2 separate regions of the Homo sapiens genome follow, and region 1 is linked to region 2. The links come from fine-mapping of genetic effects on gene expression. A gene starts in region 2. The other region holds a variant in brackets. All regions are shown on one strand. Distances are from middle to middle.

Region 1 (8,679 bases), 200 kb before region 2:
CTCACACCCCCGACCCCTGTCCCCATGGCCAGTCACTTTCCCGTTTCCTCCCACAGCAGCAGGGGGCGGCGGCTGAAGACTCAGGTAAGATGCAACTCAGGGAGGATGGCACTTAGATTGGTTTCTCTTTCTTTTTTTCTTGATTCTGTCTTTATGAAACTTTGCTTTAACCCAACATTGTTTAAATCCCGACCTGGTTTCTCGTGAGCTTGAAGCCAGGGTGCCCACACTCTGCAAAAGAAGAAAAATGCCAGTATGAGTCCTTGAGGCTCAGTGTTGTTGTGCAGTCCGTGGACAGGACAATGTCCTCATTTCAAGGTTTCATTTTTGGAGGAAAAAAAATTCCTCAGGATGCAGGATGCCCTGCATCCCATAATGGGTATGCCCCCATTGAAACCAGCTCTGGGAGGGTGACCAAACTAAAAAGGAAACAGTTCCAAGCAGAAGGACACAAATTACCAGCAGAGTCATTATTACTCACAGCAATTCAGGCCCAGGGTCTATGTGGTGCAGGGTTTCTGAAAGCCGGCCTATACCTGGGAAGGAGGGAGAGAACCAGAGGCCTGGATGCTGGGTGGAGGTTCTGTGATTTACTTTGTTACAAATTTAAGAATAAAACCTGCTGGATCAGGAGCTTTTCCTATCTCCTCAAATAAACCTGGATCCCAAGAGGAACAGAAAGGAGAAAGGTGAGTGTGGGAGAGGAATTGGAGTGCAAGCTCAGAGGTCCTTGAGGGAGGGAGGAGAAGGTGTCTGCTTTGGGGAATGGCAATAAGAGGTATGTTGGGATGGAGATACCCAAATGTGTAGCACTTATACCGATTTAGCAAATGGTCCTCTCATTAGCAAAAGCTTCTAAACATTAGCCTTAAGTTTAAAAAAAAAAAGGACATTTGAAATTATGCAAAAGCCCAGAGCACCAATATGCGCTTCACATACGTTCCGCAGGAAGATTCCTTCATTTGCAAACTGGAGTATATTACGTAATCATTTCCATTTCCTGGCAGGTTGTGAAGAGTAAATGACATCATATAATGTAAAGTGCTTGAAACACCATGAATAATACATTTGAGCTATTACTATTTTTACCATGATTACTGGTAGATTAAAAGCAGTCTCTTCATGGCCATCTTGATTACTACTAGTACTAACACGACCATCACCGCAAACACTACTACTACTATAAGGATAGTACTTTATTAGCGGTGCTTAATAGAATCTATTATAATTCTCAATACTTAGCATATTTCAGGAGGAAAACTGACTGACGGACTGATATAATGCACAATTAAAGAAATGAACAAAGAAATGGATAGATTCCTATAATGTGGGGGGTGTATCTTAAAAGAAAAGCAGTCCAATAGGTTTCAAAGAGCAAAACCAGGAGTCAAGAGCTGTCTCTAATCCCAGGAGCCGGATGCTGTGAACACAGGAGTGTTCAATAAATACCTAACTGATGTCTGAGCAAGGAAGAGACAAAGAATGACAACAGTCAATTGGGCTTAGCTTAGATAAACACTCAAAGCCAGGATACAGACAGAACAGGACAAGAGTGGCTCTTACAGTCACTTGATTCAGGGTCCTTGTTTTAATGATGGGGCTGTGAAGGATCAAAGGGGTCAGCTGGGGCTCAACACTCAAAGGGCAGCTTTGGGCCAAGTCAATCAAACCAGCCTGGTGAGCTGAGATGCACGTTACCCAGTAAATACAGGTATTGGGATAGACTGTGTCTCTGCAGTGTGATGGTTAATTTTGTGTGTCAACTTGACTGGGCCACAGGATTTCCAGAGAGCTGGTTAAACAGCATTTCTGAGTATGTCCAGATGAGATTATCACTTCAACCAGGAGACTGAGTAAAGCAGATGGTCCTCTTCAATGTGGGTTGGGCCTCATTCAACCCACTGAAGGCCTGAATAGAACAGAAAGGCACAGGAAGGTTGAATTTCATCTCTGCCTGATTGCTTGTTCTGGGACATCGATCTTCTCCTGCCCTTGGCATTCCTGGTCCTCAGGCCTTCGAATCTGGACTGGAATCTACACTACAGGTTCTCCAGCCCTCTGCCCTTTGTGACACGACAGCTGTTTCCTAGGTCTCCAGCCTGCAGGTGGCAAATCACAGGACCCCTCTGGGTCCATAATTGCATGAGCCAATACCTTATAATAAATAAATCTCCTAGATATAGATATAAATATCAAGGTAGATATTGATATAGACATGGATACGCATCTATCTTCATGTTCTATTGGTCCTGTTTCTCTGGAAAGCCCTGACTAATACATCTGTATATTTTGAAGGCTTTAAAGAAGGACAAAGCTCTTTTTTATCCACTCTGTTAACTCCTCATAGCCTATCTCAGCAACTGACTCATAACAGGAAAGTGGACAAGGGCAGAGAGGACAGGAGGGAATGGCTACCTCCTGCCAGTCACCACACAAGGTGCTGGGGAGGTGGGTTCAGTGAGACCCAAGGCTCTGCTCCCAGGGAAAGTTGGAGAGATCGTGTTTCCAGGCGAGATCCCAAACACAGCCCCCATCAGCAGAACCCGTCCCACAAGAGGCACTGTAGAGAGAAAGATCCTCATTTTCAGAAGAAACAGAGCTGAAAGAAGGGACTAGGAGTGGGCAGAGGACAATGGTGGAGAAGGAGAGACAGTTGGAGAGGGGGTGAGGAGCAGCACAAGAGAGTACAGAGAATGTGCTGGGAGAACAGGCAGGCACAGGGCAGGTTTAAGGGATTCAGAAGACTCATGTCCTGATTTGGGAGCCACCATCCATGAGCAGGGGGGATCTCAAGCAATGCAATTGCTCCAAGCCTCCAGTCCCTTCATCTGTGAAATTCTGGCATCCATGAAGCTAGCTTCACTCCCTGTGATTCCTTCAGAGAAAGCACAGTGGCTTTTCTCCTTTATTCTAGGCACCCTGCACAGTGGCACACTGCAGGTTCTCGTTCGATATTTGTGCAATACAAGAAAGGAGAAAGGATGAGAAATCACTTTATAAACTGTAAAGTCCTGGGCAGATGACAGGGCTGCCTTTGTTTCTTAAGGCAGACTGGGGAGCTTCTGAAAGGGGAATACTTTCTTCCTCACTTTGCCTTTCCAGCCCCAAGTCAGTGTCCTGAATTCAGTTAACTCAAGAAAACGTTCTCCAAGCATGTCCTATGTGCTGTCAAAATGCCAAAAGCTGGAAGCAGACAGAGAACAAGACCTAGACCCTGCAATCCAGGGGAGAAGAGCTGATGTTCAGGAAAGTGAAATGCTGCTTCTGGAGACAGAATAAATCCCCCCGGAGAGAGGATAAGAATTGACTATTCTAAAGCCCAGCCTTTCCTCAAAACCATAATGATAATCATCACCCATAGTGACAGCTACGGTGGGTGGTCACCTGTGTGGCTGGCTGCTAGATGAGCTGGACTGAAAGAGACTCAGAAATGCTTTCGTTTTCAGGTGGTGG[C/T]GCAGCCACTGCTCCCCGACTGGGCCTAGTGCATTGCAGACATCACGGAGGAAGCTCCGTGTCTGTGGGTGTGACGGTGTATGATCAGTGAAAGATGTTATCAGAAGAAAAAAAGTTGGGCACATTTTCCCCTAGACTTACTAATCCTTCCTCTGCAATTACCCTCATGTTTTGACATTAATTGAACTCTGTCTTTATTACTAAAAATAAACTCCAGGGCAATTGCAATGCACCAAAAACCTCAGTATGAAACCACAAGAAACAGTAATAGAGAAATGGGCCAATACCAGAGGTGTTTTGAGAAGATGTTTCTGTTTCAAGCGTAGAGTTCCGAGTGGGCCAGGAGTTCTTTAAAATCCTGTGGACACCAAGTACAGGAAGCAATCTTTACACACATACCTTGTGGCGAAAGACCGGTGCTGGCTTGTATCCCTTGACAGGGAAGCAGGAGCCTGCTGATGCGGTGTCACCAAAGGCCAGGAGGCCAGCATGACCAGTGTGGCAGTATCAGGCAGGGAGCCAGCAGATGACACCAGGGGAAGGCAAGGCCAGAAGAGGAGTCCAAAAGAGCAAAGTGAAGGTCTAAAGGGAAGAAGCCCATCCTGTCTGCATATCCAGGGAGCAGGGCCAGGGGTGAGCAAGAATGACACTGAGAGGGTCAGGAGCTAGACAGGTCAGGAGCTGGAAGGAGAAACAAACAGGCTCCTGTTCATTGCCCATTTCCTCGGGCAAGGTTCCGTCATCCTCACAACCAGACCAAGTGGCTTCTGGTCCATGATGTGGCTGGGAAAATTGAAGTCTGGCTGGGTGTGTGGTGTGTGCCTATAGTACTAGCTACTCAGGAGACTGAGGTGGGAGGATTGCTTAAGCCCAGGGATTGGAGGCCAGCCTGGGCCACATAGCTAAGACCCTGTCTTTAAAAAAATAAAAGAAAAAAATTTGTACGTGTGTTTTGAGACAGAGTCTTGCTCTGTTGCCCAGGCTGGAGTGCAGTGGCACAATCTTGGCTAACTACAACTCTGCCTCCCAGTTTCAAGTGACTCTTGTGCCTAAGCCTCCCAAGTAGCTAGGATTACAGGCGTGTGCCACCATGCCTGGCTAATCTTTGTATTTTTAATAGAGACAGGGTTTCACCATGTTGGCCAGGCTGGTCTCGAACTCCTGGCCTCAAGTGATTAGCCCACCTCAGCCTCCCAAAATGCTGGAATTACAGGCGTGAGCCACTGTGCCTGGCAAGAAATTTTTTTCCTTTTTTTTTTTTTTTGTTTTAAGAAAGAGAGAAGTTTGAAAAGCTGTAAAAGACTTGCCCAGAGTCAAATAGGCAGTGGGAAGTGGAGCCTGGGGTAGACCCTAAGTGTCTGACTCCGTGTTCCTGGTGCCTTTGCTGCACAGCAGGCAACAGTCCCGACTCATGGGTGGGAAAGGTGAGGATGCCCTCCTATTGGTGTGCGTCCCAGCCAGGCTGATTTCTAGACAGGTACAGACAGGCAGGCTCCCAGTGTGAGAAGTGCCTTTAGGACAAGTAGAACTGCACACATAGATGCAAATGCCTGGGCCTTTCTTCAGGTTCTGTCATAGAACAGACTGCCTGAGGCCATGCTCAGGACTGCGGGCCTCAGAAACCCAGCACTTGCCCCTGCTCTGTCTTTCTGCTCCCAGCAGCTGAATTCTAGGGAAATGTCTCTCCGTCACCCCACCCCGAGACAGACCTGCCAAGCTTCTGGCTTTCAGATTCTCTGCCACATGACTGAGGTCCCATCAGCCCTTTTCCCCAATATGAGAATAGCTTGTTCCAGCCCTCCAGGTGCAGCAGGGCATGGGGATCAGCTGGAAAGGCTGCTACACCTGTATGCTCTCCTGCTCCCTAAGCCTGCCTCAGAAGCATGGGCTCCCAAGACATAATTCAGTGACTGTCCCTGAGGGTCAAAAAGAGCTACGAGGCCAAGGCGGGCAGATCACAAGGTCAGGAGATCAAGACTATCCTGGCTAACACAGTGAAACCCCGTCTCTAATAAAAATACAAAAAAAAGTAGCCAGGCGTGGTGGTGGGCACCTGTAGTCCCAGCTACTCAAGAGGCTGAGGCAGGAGAATGGCGTGAACCCGGGAGGTGGAGCTTACAGTGAGCCGAGATTGCGCCACTGCACTCCAGCCTGGGTGACAGAGCAAGATTCCGTCTCAAAAAAAAAAAAAAAAAAAAGAAAGAAAAGAAAAAAAAGAGCTACGTAGGGCTCCCAAGGAAGACTTGTCAGCTGTAGACATACATTGCAGTAGCAGAAGTGAGAAATTCAACAATGATACGAAAATGAATGCGTAATATGAATGCACAAAGGTGCTGAGCTCTAAACAATGGAAAGGATTTTTAATTACTAAACAGCAGCTCAGCTCCCAGTATGCTTTATTCACAAGCATCTTTCAAGAGTCACGAGAGGCAGCACCTGCTCCAGGAAGCCTCCCGGCATGGAGAAAATCCCCTCCACCATCCTCACAGACACCTAGGGAGTATGTAGTATCCTATGTGTGCCAGTATCCCCACCTTGACTGAAGGGCAAGGCCTCATGCTCTTCACCTCTGCATGCCACAGGAATGCTGACTATCACAGCAGATTTGAAACGCAAATGCGCTTTTGAAAATTTAAGGCACAATACAAAAGATGAAGATGACATATGTAGCACAACAGAAGTACAGTTCTCTGCTATGCTCTCAGTTCTGACTTCTCTGTCTTCTCACCAGTCCACAGCTTCTCACCCACCTTTCCACCCTTGCATAGCTTTCAAATTCATGATAGGAATCATGTCAGTTTCCTTTTCATCATGTCATTTATTCTTTCCAACATCTTACTTAAAAAAAATTGCAACTGACCTCATTCTTTCCTCTGAACCTTTAAAAACTTTCTTCTTTTGGTTACTTCTCTATCTCTTTTTCTCTCTCCTTTCAATTACTCATTCATTTGTTGTTTCACCCTCGGTCAGGCACTATGCCAGATCCTGTGATGTGTAAGACAGTCCTTGCTCTAAGCAATTTCACCAGCAATAGGGGGAATGGGCAGGGGAAGGGGCAAGGGACATTTCAACCCAGTGCAGTAGCCATGGTATAGTGGAGACATGCCTTCACTAGCCCGCTGCCGTCCAGGGGAGGGGGGAATCAACTCTGCTTTGGGTAAGGGGCTGGGCACAACTGGGAAGGTGATTCTCAGCTGTTTCCCAGGCTGACTTGGTGATAGGTGAAAGGCTGGGGGGACAGCAAATGAAAGACTTCAAAATAGCCTGATACATGGAAGGAATTCTAAATGGCATAATTGAGGAATAATTTGCAAAAACTCTCTTCCCTTTTGGAGCATTTCTTCCTCAGTGCAAGGCAGCCTGCTAAGCTGTTTTGCTCCAATATCTCACTCAACACAAACAACATCTTCATGAGGCAGGCACTAATACCATCCCTATTTTACTAATGAGGAGACCAAGGCTTTGAGAGGCTGAGTGACTTGTCCAAAATGAGGCAAGTAGCAAAACCAAGAAAACCCAAGTCTACCTGAAGCACTCAGTCTTAACCTCTAACCCTTTACCTCCTGCACCCTCAGCCTTAGTGTGGAAGGAGCATAGAATTCAAGGAGGTGAAAGGAGGAAGCACGGATTGGCTGGGAAAGGAGGAAGAGCTCATGTTCTGGATGTCCCAAAGGTGTTTCAATCTGATTATATAACCCTCACCTCACCTTTTCCTCTTTTCCCCAAGGCTGTCTCCACATGTTTTCACAAGACAGCTGGAGCATCCTGCACCTTCTGCTACAAGTGGCGCATTCACTAGGAGATGGTGGGCTCCTCCCTCCACTAGGGACAGAGGGAGAGCTTCCTAGGCACAATGAATAAGTGGACTAGACTCTGAGAACCAGGTCGGGGAGAGGTTATGGGGAGCCAGCTTCCCGAACACATTGGAGCGGCACAGGAAGACACACCGAGAGGTCAAGAACCACAACCCAAGCTGTGCTGCAGGAGGTCGTCAACTCCAAAAGCTATTTTTGGTTTCACAAGGATCAGGAAGATAAAGTCGCTTACCTTAATTCTCCAATCTCAAAATACTCCAGCTTTAGGTCACGTAAGGACAGTTCTCAAGTCCGTCCAGAGTGCTGAAAGGATATGTATTTTTTCAGATTGAAAGTGCCTAAATCCCAGGTGTAACAGGATTCTAGAAACACACAAAAAGGATACATATTAATATCAATGTTTACCTTGAATAGATTTGGTAATGAGATGTTTCATTCATTTAAAAGATAAGGACTGCACATTTACTATACACTGAATGAGGAGCACAAGAAGAGAAGACATTTAATGAGCAATGCTTATGTGGCAAGCACTGTGTTAGGCATTTTATACACATTAAACTGTTTAATCCTATGAGATAGGCTTTGATATCCCCCATTTCTGAAGTCACACAGGCAGTCAGGGCAGAAGTGATGGTTGGGTCTTTCTGACTCATAAGCCCCCACCCATTAATCATGTTTCCCTCCCCTACTAGAGCATTTTCATTCACCTTCTTCCAAGAATACTAGGTAGAGAGGAATAAGAAACACACCCAATAACCCCATTCTGAGAATAGCCTGTCCCTGGGTGCCCAGCCCATTTCATACATGGTGGGGATCATGTGAGCCATGGAGGCTGCATCAGATTAATTTTGTTGTAAGTTTTATCTGAGCCCAACACTGTCATCTAGTAACATGTGTTCAGTGGACATCATGCATTATTCAGGAAACAAAAAAATGTAGCCTCACTAGAGATTCTTATCTTAACTGATCATCAAGATGGCTAGATGAGGTGGTCAAAAGGGGTGGGACAGTGTGGAGAATGAGGCCCAGGGGCCACCCTTCTAGGCTATCCTAAAGCAGCGCCTGGTACTTAGCCTGGGGATCCAGGCACTGACCTTCTCTCCTGTCCTTCAAAGAACTGTGATGCTCCGGTGTGGCCCCCACAGAAAACCCCATTCATACATTTACAGTACGGTGCCCTTTTCCCTTTTCAGGCCCCCCCACCATCCTCACTGGCAGCCAAATCATGAATGACATGAAGCTTAGTCAGCACAAACTCAGAATAAAGAACGCTGAAAAGTTCTGAAGGGGAATTTGCTCTCAACTCTGGAATAGCTGGTGAAACATCCTTGCCCCACAGGCAAGAACGGCGGGCAGGTGGCTTGTATTCCCCACTTTGATTTCCTCATCTCTCCCCAAGGAACAACTTGGC
Region 2 (8,679 bases):
CACTCCTCAGCTCCCTGACACATCCCCACTGCCTCCTGCTACTGTCTGTTTTCCTTCTTTTTCATCAGCATACTTTCCCTACAGGCAAGCCCCCCACTTCCACACCATGTCAAGCTGTCTCATATCTAAAAAGATAATGACTGTTGACTGTGTATCTTGTTTCCTTGAAGACAAAGCAGTTCTTTCTTTATTTTTTAATTTTTATTTTATTATTTTTTACAGAGACAGAGTCTCACTCTGCTGCCCAGGCTGGTCTCAAACTTCTCAGCTCAAGCAATCCTCCTGCCTCAGCCTCTCAAAGTGCAAAAATTATAGGCATAAGCCACCATGCCGGGCTGAAGCAGCAGCTCTTGACAGCCACCTGATTCAACAAAGTACCAGGGCTGTGTTGGGCACTTAGACGCCCCTGTTCTCAAGAATTTCACAGTCAGTGATAATAAAGAGGCAGATAAACAAAACAATATGCCATACCTCCCCCCCCACCTAACTCCACACACACACAAAAAGGAAAAGATAAAGGAAAAAAAAAACAGATAGTTCGGAATTTCGCAATTAAAAAATGAATAAGACCATTTCCACATCATGTATATGTCTTGTGTTTTATGACCTGACATTGTTTTTGTTTTTAATTAAATCCTGAAACCTAGTTTTGGTCACAAAATCCAGTGCTATACCTGATTGCAGCCTCTTGCAAATGATTATAGATTTTGCACAAAGACCGAGGCGGTTGTTTGTTTTTTGAGACAAAGTCTTACTCTATCTCCCAGGCAGGAGTGCACTGGCAATCTCAGCTCACTGCAAACTCCGTCTCCCGGGTTCAAGAGATCTTCCTACCTCAGCCTCCCGAGTAGCTAGGACTACAGGCGTGTGCCACCACGCCGGGCTAATTTTTTTTTTTTTTTTTTTTTTGTATTTTTAGTAGAGACAGGGTTTCACCATGCTGGCCAGGCTGGTCTTGAACTCCTGACCTCAGGTAATCTACCGGCCTCAGCCTCCCAAAGTGCTGGGATTACGGGTGTGAGCTACTGCACCCAGCCAAGACTAAGGGTTCTGACCTCTACCCATGACTCCTGCCCACACCCACAGCCCAAACTTTCCAGCATGGCAGCCCTCACCTAAGGCCTCTTGGCCCCTTTGTCTCTGACTGCTCCGTGGCTGCAGAAAAGGTCGGCAGGCAGAGCATGAGGTATCTTCATGCAAGATGTTCAGCTTTCTGTTTGTGCCTAAGGTGCACGGTGAGGGTGGGGGACACACTGTGTTCTCCTGCTCAAGGCCAAGGGGTATACCCTTTTCTTGTTGTTTTTTTTTTGAGACTGAGTTTTGCTCTTGTTGCCCAGGCTGGAATACAATGGTGCGATCTCGGCTCCCGGCAACCTCCGCCTCCCGGGTTCAAGCAATTCTCCTGCCTCAGACTCCCAAGTAGCTGGAATTACAAGTGTGCGCCACCATGCCCGGCTAATTTTTTGTATTTGTAGTAGAGACCGGGTTTCACCATGTTGGCCAGGCTGGTCTCGAACTCCTGACCTCAGGTGATCCACCTGCCTCAGCCTCCCAAAGTGCTGGGATTACAGGTGTGAGCCACCGCGCCCGGCCCTTTGCTTGTTCTTAACCTCATTATCCTCTAACTTCTGAGAGTCACACTAAGAAGTCGAAGACTGTGGTCCAAATCTCTACAGCTCTGCCTCTCCCAAGCTGTGTGACCTGGGAGGATATTTTTAACCTCTCTGGGCTGTGGGTTCCTCATCTGCAAAACCACAACAATAATCATCCTATTTTATAGGAAAGTTAAATGAGATCATATAATTTGAAGTGTTAGAACCAACCCTGCCCCACAACAAGAAGTCTACCATTGCTAGACATTTCATTATAAATGCCTCATGGAGTTGTAGGGAGTAGAAGGTGAAGAACATGCTTTGCGTGATAAACAATGTCCATGTTATACATGCACTATTATTGTTCTTATTATTAATTGTTATTTATTACCGTTATTAGTTCCTTAGATTATTTGAGGTCAGAAAACAGAAGAGACAAAGGGGGCTCCTGCCAAAGGACCCATTTTGGCAGCATTCCAAAAGGCCTTGAATTTCTGAGACTCTCTAGGGATGATATTGAAGTGACTGTCCACAGGACTCAATGGTCCAAATGATTCCAGATTGTTGCTCTGTTCCCATCCTCAGTCAGGGTCCCACCATGGACACTGGGAATATAAATTGGGGTGGGGGGTGTGGTCCTGATCCCTCAAAGAGATCACAAACCTGCATCAGGAAACAATAAAAAGCAAAACAAGGCCGGGTACTGTGGCACCTGTAATCCCAGTACTTTGGGAGGCCGAGGAGGGCAGATCACCTGAGGTCAGATGTTCGAGACCAGCTTGACCAATCTGGAGAAACTCCGTCTCTACTAAAAATACAAAATTAGCCAGGCATGGTGGTCCATGCCTGTAATCCCAGCAACTTGGGAGGCCTCCCAGCATTTTGGGAGGCCAAGGCGGGCGGATCACCTGAGGCTGGGAGTTCAAGACCAGCCTGACCAATCTGGAGAAACTCCGTCTCTACTAAAAATACAAAATTAGCTGGGTGTGGTGATGCATGCCTGTAATCCTAGCTACTTGGGAGGCTGAGGCAGGAGAATCGCTTGAACCTGGGAGGCGGAAGTTGCAGTGAGCTGAAATCCAGCCATTTTACTCCAGCCTGGGCAACAAGAGTGAAACTCTGTCTCAAAAAAAAAAAAAAAAAAGCAAAACAAGAGAAAAAGAAGAATCTTATGTCTGCAGCCAACTATGAAAGGAAATGCAAAATAAAAAGGCCACACATCCAGAAGGGCCACCTGATATAAAACAAATAGCAAAGGGGCAGCCATCAGCAGGCCTGCCACTGCCTCTCCAGACGACCTGGACCGGCAACTATCCAAAGTCTTCCACTTCCCCCAGATATTCTGCCAATACTCTGCCCAAATGCAGGGCCACTCACACAAACAGGAGGAAAGAACAGGGTGTCTTATAGTCCAGGAGATCTCTTGACAAAGCTGCCAGAGAAACGTGTCCATCTTGGGCAGGCAGAAGGCCCAGGCATGGCAAACACAGGCTCCAGAATCCAGCCAGAGTGCCTGCCTACCGCTCAGGAGGCGGAAAAAAAAAACAACTAAAGAACAGGGAATTGATTTGATGTGGGCAGTGAGAATTCACCAGGTTTTCAGACCAGCAATCATATAAACTAGTGGGGATCAGATATGTCAGAACAGAGGGGAGAACTCCTCCTTTCCAGTGCAGAAAAGCTCCAGCCACAGAAACACAGCATGGAGGTGGCGAGGGGCGGGGGAAGGTGTTTAAGACAGAGGAAAAGGAAAGTTAATCAGAAAAAAAACAAAACAAAACAAAAACGGACTTCTATTTTTCAAGAGAAGCCGTTTATGCAAAAATTCTGCACTCAAGATAGATGAGGCAACAAGAATAAGCCACTCTTAACCAGGCAAAACAGCAACACAACCACTTAACAAATCCCTCTGGGAATTCAATGGGTACAGCATATACCCCACAGTCATACCCGTAAGTGGAATTCCAGTTGGGCCCTTGTGCCGAAGCTTTAGACCACGAGGCACGTCCTCACCTCCAAGATGTAACTCATCTCAAATAATGGAGACCAGGCCACGAGGTTTCTCCCAGACACGGATTCTGTATTTGTCCTTCTGCAGCTTCCGGGAAGGTTTTTCTCCTAATAAATCCTGTAGAAAGTTCCACTCAGGGTTCTGAGGATTGATACAACCCCCTTCTTGACTGATCAGAGCTTTAGAAAGATTCGCTATGACCACAGGACTGTGTCAAGTTGAACAAGTCTCAACTTGTCGCTGCCAGTATGCAAAATAGGTCTGAAACATCTTATAACAGACAACACAGCAGACACAGTCCCTGCATCCTCAGGGCCCCCGCCCACCCACCACACACAAACACATTTCTCTAGAGTTTTTTTTTCCTAGCAAGGAACTAGCCCCAGTAGCCAGGATTCACAGTGGTGGAGTGGGCGAGAGACAGGCTAACAGCCTCTCTCTGGAAAACCTAATACCAGAAAGGAAACACCAAAACCTCATCCTCTTGTCCCTAAATCCTTGCACGTGATTTCTTCTCCTCTCTAATGTTCTAGAAGGGCCTAAAGTCAGGAGCTTAGATGAACAGAAGAATCTTCCATGCCTGCAAACCACCAGGAAAAGGCATGAGGCATCCACACACAGACGCATGCAGCTTCATGGCTGTGCTTCCTGAAAGTCTACACCCAGAACCACAAACACTGGCATAAATAAGAGCACGTTAGCAAGAGAAGGCAAACCTAATTAAATCAACAGCCCAGCCAAGAAGAATGACCATGATGAGGGTTTAGGAGCACCCAACAAACCCTCACATGCGATGCAAAAACTGAGAAAGTCTCAAAACACGGAGTTACTGAGTTTTTGGAAATCACCTTCGCCCAGCCCTGAGGGGGTGTGAGAGGAAGCGGGGAGTGATGGTCAAAGGATGGAGGGAGGATCACACATTCACAGACCTCTAGTTTCGCCAGAGGGGCCTCCAAACCACATCATGGCTCCAAATCTGTTCTGACTGCAGAGGGGTCTATTTTTAGAAATTAGTTAATATGCCTTTGATCAAGTTCATAAATCCAGAATTGCCTCTATGCACCGGCCATTCGGTGTCATCCCCCTCCCCTCACCCTCCCCAAACGCCCAAACTCGCCACCAGTCTTGAGGCTGGTGATGAGGACAGTGCACGCCTAGCACACACATATTGGATTCCGAAAGCCCCTTTCCTCCGTCCGACTACTCACAGCGCATCCCTACTCAGGGCCAAGTCTCGAGAGTTTCCAGAAACGCAGGGGACAAAATTGGAACTTACTGGAGGGCAGATCTGGCCGTGTCTCCACAGGTCACAGGGACCGCCAACATCCTTTCCGCAAGGAAATCCACTGGAAGGTGCCGGGGGTCCCGGGGCACATCTTTGCTCGCAGCTCGTCGTCGCCCCTCCTCGTCCCGGCCGCCCCGAGCCCGCCCGGCCCGCGGGCCCATGTGCTCGGCCGCCACACGCGCTCTGCCCGGAGGAGCGCGGGGCTGGCGGGTTGCCCGTGACGTCACGGCGGCTCGCGCTCGGGCCTCGGGGGAGGGGGGAGGCGCGCGCGGCCCGGCCCGCCGCGTGCGTCCTCGGTCCCGGCGCTCCCGGCCTTCCCCAGGTCCCCGCCCGCCGCCCGGTGCGCCCCTCAGCCTGCTTCCCGGCAGCGCAGGGCACTGAGCCGGAGAGGGCCGCGCGCGGAGGCGGGGCGGGCTTGGGCGACTGCGGCCGCCAAGGGCCCAGACTGGGGGAGCGGAGGGTAGGCTCTGCCCTGGGCTGGGGGTCCTCGCTACAAGCGCGCCGGAGTCCCACCGGGCCGGAGGGAATCCCCGGTGATGCCAGCTCGCTTGTGCGCCGAGCTTTCCACGGTCTTTCCCTGAGCCCTCTTACCCTTCCCCACACCGTCCTGGAAGCAAGCGGTCTTCCCACTTTCCTGCTGAGGAAGGCGAGTTCAGTGAAATAGGAGGGCCAGAGATGCTCCGGGATAGGTGCAGTTCCCGCAGAAGACCGCCGACTGAGCTCCAGCTCCAGTGATCTGAGCGCCTCTTTGGGTACCACCCAGCATCCGCCGGCCTGGTGAGAAGGGCGCGCGCACCTTCTCGCCTCCTTCGACGTCTCCCGCTGTTTCCAGAAGCCGAGTTGCAAACCCGTGCAGAGGGCCAGCGGTCTGCGCAGCTCCCTCCACTCCGGGCAGAGTTGACCTACAGAGTGTGTTCAACGAGTCCCTTAAATGCCCAGTAGTTCCTCCAAAGGAGCAAGTGGACACTGGCCTCCCATGTGGGATGTGGTTATCTTGTTCTATCTGCATAAACCCGAGACTGGACAGATGTAAGAGCTGCCCCTGTTCAGTTCAAAGTTTATTTTATTTATTTATTTATTTATTTATTTATTTATTTATTTAGAGATGAAGTTTCACTCTGTCACCCAGGCTGGAGTGCAGTGGCCCGATCATGGCTCACTGCAACCTCCGCCTGCCTGGTTCAAGCGATTCTCCTGCCTCAGCCTCCGGAGTAGCTGGGATCACAGGCGCGCGCCACCACGCCCAGCTAATTTTTGTAATTTTAGCAGAGACAAGGTTTCACCATGTTGGCCAGGCTGGTCTCGAACTCCGAACCTGAGATGATCCACTCGCTTCGGCCTCCCAAATTGCTGGGATTACAGGCGTGAGCCACCACGCCAGCGCCCGTCCAGTTCAACGTCTACTGAGCACTTAAGGGGAGTCAGGCACCCAGCTAGGCAATGGGGTGGGGGTTACTCATGGACCCTAGAAGGACGTCACAAACCAGCAAAAATTGGACACACAAATGGGTGGTATCAATATTACGGAACAGAAGGTTGCCCCTCTTCTCCCCTGCCGGCTACCCTACATCCTACTCACTCCAACCTACCCGGAGGCTCCTCCCTCTTTCTGTGTAGTGTTTCATCACATCTCTTCCCGTGGCGGCTTCTCAACGCAAATGTTCTTATTTGAAAAAGAAAAAACAATTACTCAGTTGATGCTCCTGTTCTGCCTGTTTCACAGATTCATTTACACTCATGGGCATCTCTTTTGTGCCTGGCTCCTTGCCAGGAGCTGGACAAGTCTCCGCTTTGTGCCTGGCTCTCTGTGAGGGGCTGGACAGGTGTCTGTTTTGTGCCTGGCTCTCTGTGAGGGGCTAGACAGGTGTCTGTTTTGTGCCCGGCTCTGAGAGGGACTGGGCAGGTGCCTGAGCTGCAGTTGGCATCTAGTTGTCATCCATCTTTTAAAATATAAAAAGAAGATGATGAGAAACCTCTGCATCTATACATCATGCGATAGGAGCTGTGAGACCTTAATCCTTTCACTGCTTAATCATTTTTTCCAGAAACCAAAGGCTGTGACCTTGAGGAAGCCAGTGTCCTCCTGGGGGATGCTGGTGGGCTATGAGAGGACCAGCTTCTAATGGCAGACGTCTCTGTCCATGTCCTGACAGTTGATGCCCAGTCCCTTCTGCATGGAAAATCTCCCCTGGCTGAAAAGACACTTTCACCCAGGACTCACTCAACTTTGACCTTGATGCTGTTTGCCCTCTCTGGGTCTCCAGCTCTCATGCACTAATCTTAGATTCACATTTTCCTTTTTATTAATTTCTTTTTTAGAATTAAAACATTTTTTCAGTAAAAATACAAAGAAAAAATAATATTTTAATATTCCTACCATCCAAAATAAACATTTTGGTATATCTGCTTTTGTTTTGTTTTGTTTGTTTGTTTGTTTGTTTGTTTGTTTGTTTTTAAATGGAGTCTTGCTGTGTTACCGGGCTTGAATGCAGCAGCTCAATCTCGGCTCACTGCAACCTCCACCTCCTGGGTTTAAGCGATTCCCCTGCCTCAGCCTCCCATGTAGCTGGGACTACAGGCGTGCGCCACCATGCCCTGCTAATTTTTTGTATTTTAATAGAGACGGGGTTTCACCATGTTGGCCAGGATGGTCTCGATCTCCTAACCTCGTGATCCACCCGCTTCAGCTTCCCAAAGTGCTGGGATTACAGGCGTGAGCCACCGTGCCCAGGCCTGCTTTCATTTTTTAAAAGTCACTTTTCTTCTTGCAAAAGTGATATTATATATATATATACACACACACACATACATACACGTTGTAAAACATTAAAACTCTGCAGAAAAAAAAATAGAGAAGAAAAACAAATTTTATCAGCCAGAAATAATTTTTCTGAATATCAGATGAGGCCTTTTTGGGCACAGATGGATACATATAGGCATAGATCTTGATATAGATATATAGATGGATGCAGGATTGACAAATAGATAGGAAAAATATTTTACAATGTTAATGTCTCATAGTTGCAATTTTTAAGAAATCTAATTTTTTTAGTAGAAGAAAAGGAAGCTAACATAAAACTAAAGGAATTGTTGTGTTTTAAATATTTATTTACCACATGAGAAGCATTGCTTTCTAAATAAGGCTACAAAGGTTCAGAAAAGATAATGAAAAGCAAGGAAAGAGTGGCATGATGATGTTTTACTTGTAGGCCTCATCATTGTAAAGTCCAGGCAACTTTTTGCTATTACATTCACACATTTTCTCACATCTCCCTTTACCTCACCTGTATTTGTTCGTTGTTTTCTGTTTTTGTTTTTGTTTTTGTTTTTGTTTTGAGACAGGATCTCACTCTGTCATCCAGACTGAAGAGCAGTGGTGCAAACTCGACTCACTGCAGCCTCCACCTCTCAGGCTCAAGCAGTCCTCCCACCTCAGCCTCCTGAGTAGGTATGTGCCACCATGCCTGGCTTACTCCCGGGCTCAAGTGATTCACCCGCCTCGGCCTCCCAAAGTGTTGAGATTACAGGCATGAGCCACTGCGCTAGCCTAGTTGTGCTATTGTCTTTCGATTACCACTTCCATTCTGTAAATGCAGTTCTCATGGTTGTTTAGTATTGGTTCTATAATTAAATAATTTTAGGCTCAGTACCAGTCTTTACCTTCTCTATATCTGCATCCTCTTTTTTTTTTTTTTTTTTTTGAGATGGAGTCTAGCTCTGTCACCCAGGCACGATCTGGGCTCACTGCAATCTCCGCCTCCTGGCTTCAAGCGATTCTCTTGCCTCAGCCT

The links.
Region 1: its variant is fine-mapped to the expression of PVT1 in whole blood (TOPMed, PIP above 0.99).

The regions. Positions count from the first base shown.
Region 1 is chr8:127,988,113-127,996,791 of GRCh38, reverse strand. PVT1 (Pvt1 oncogene) reads right to left here. Exons shown (of 9, transcript NR_190187.1): 4 at 7,501-7,630. Among named protein-coding and RNA genes, the nearest start is that of MIR1206, 16 kb to the left of the region's middle. RefSeq lists enhancers at 122-211, 3,496-3,995, 3,701-4,030, 3,996-4,497. The variant C/T (reference allele first, on the strand shown) is at 3,454.
Region 2 is chr8:127,790,935-127,799,613 of GRCh38, reverse strand. It overlaps PVT1 (Pvt1 oncogene), which reads right to left and starts at 5,090. Exons shown (of 9, transcript NR_190187.1): 1 at 4,880-5,090. MIR1204 (microRNA 1204) reads right to left here and starts at 3,652; the gene lies at 3,586-3,652. RefSeq lists enhancers at 3,615-3,954, 4,055-4,104, 3,826-4,397, 4,398-4,967, 6,110-6,680 and silencers at 5,085-5,244, 5,255-5,314, 5,335-5,384.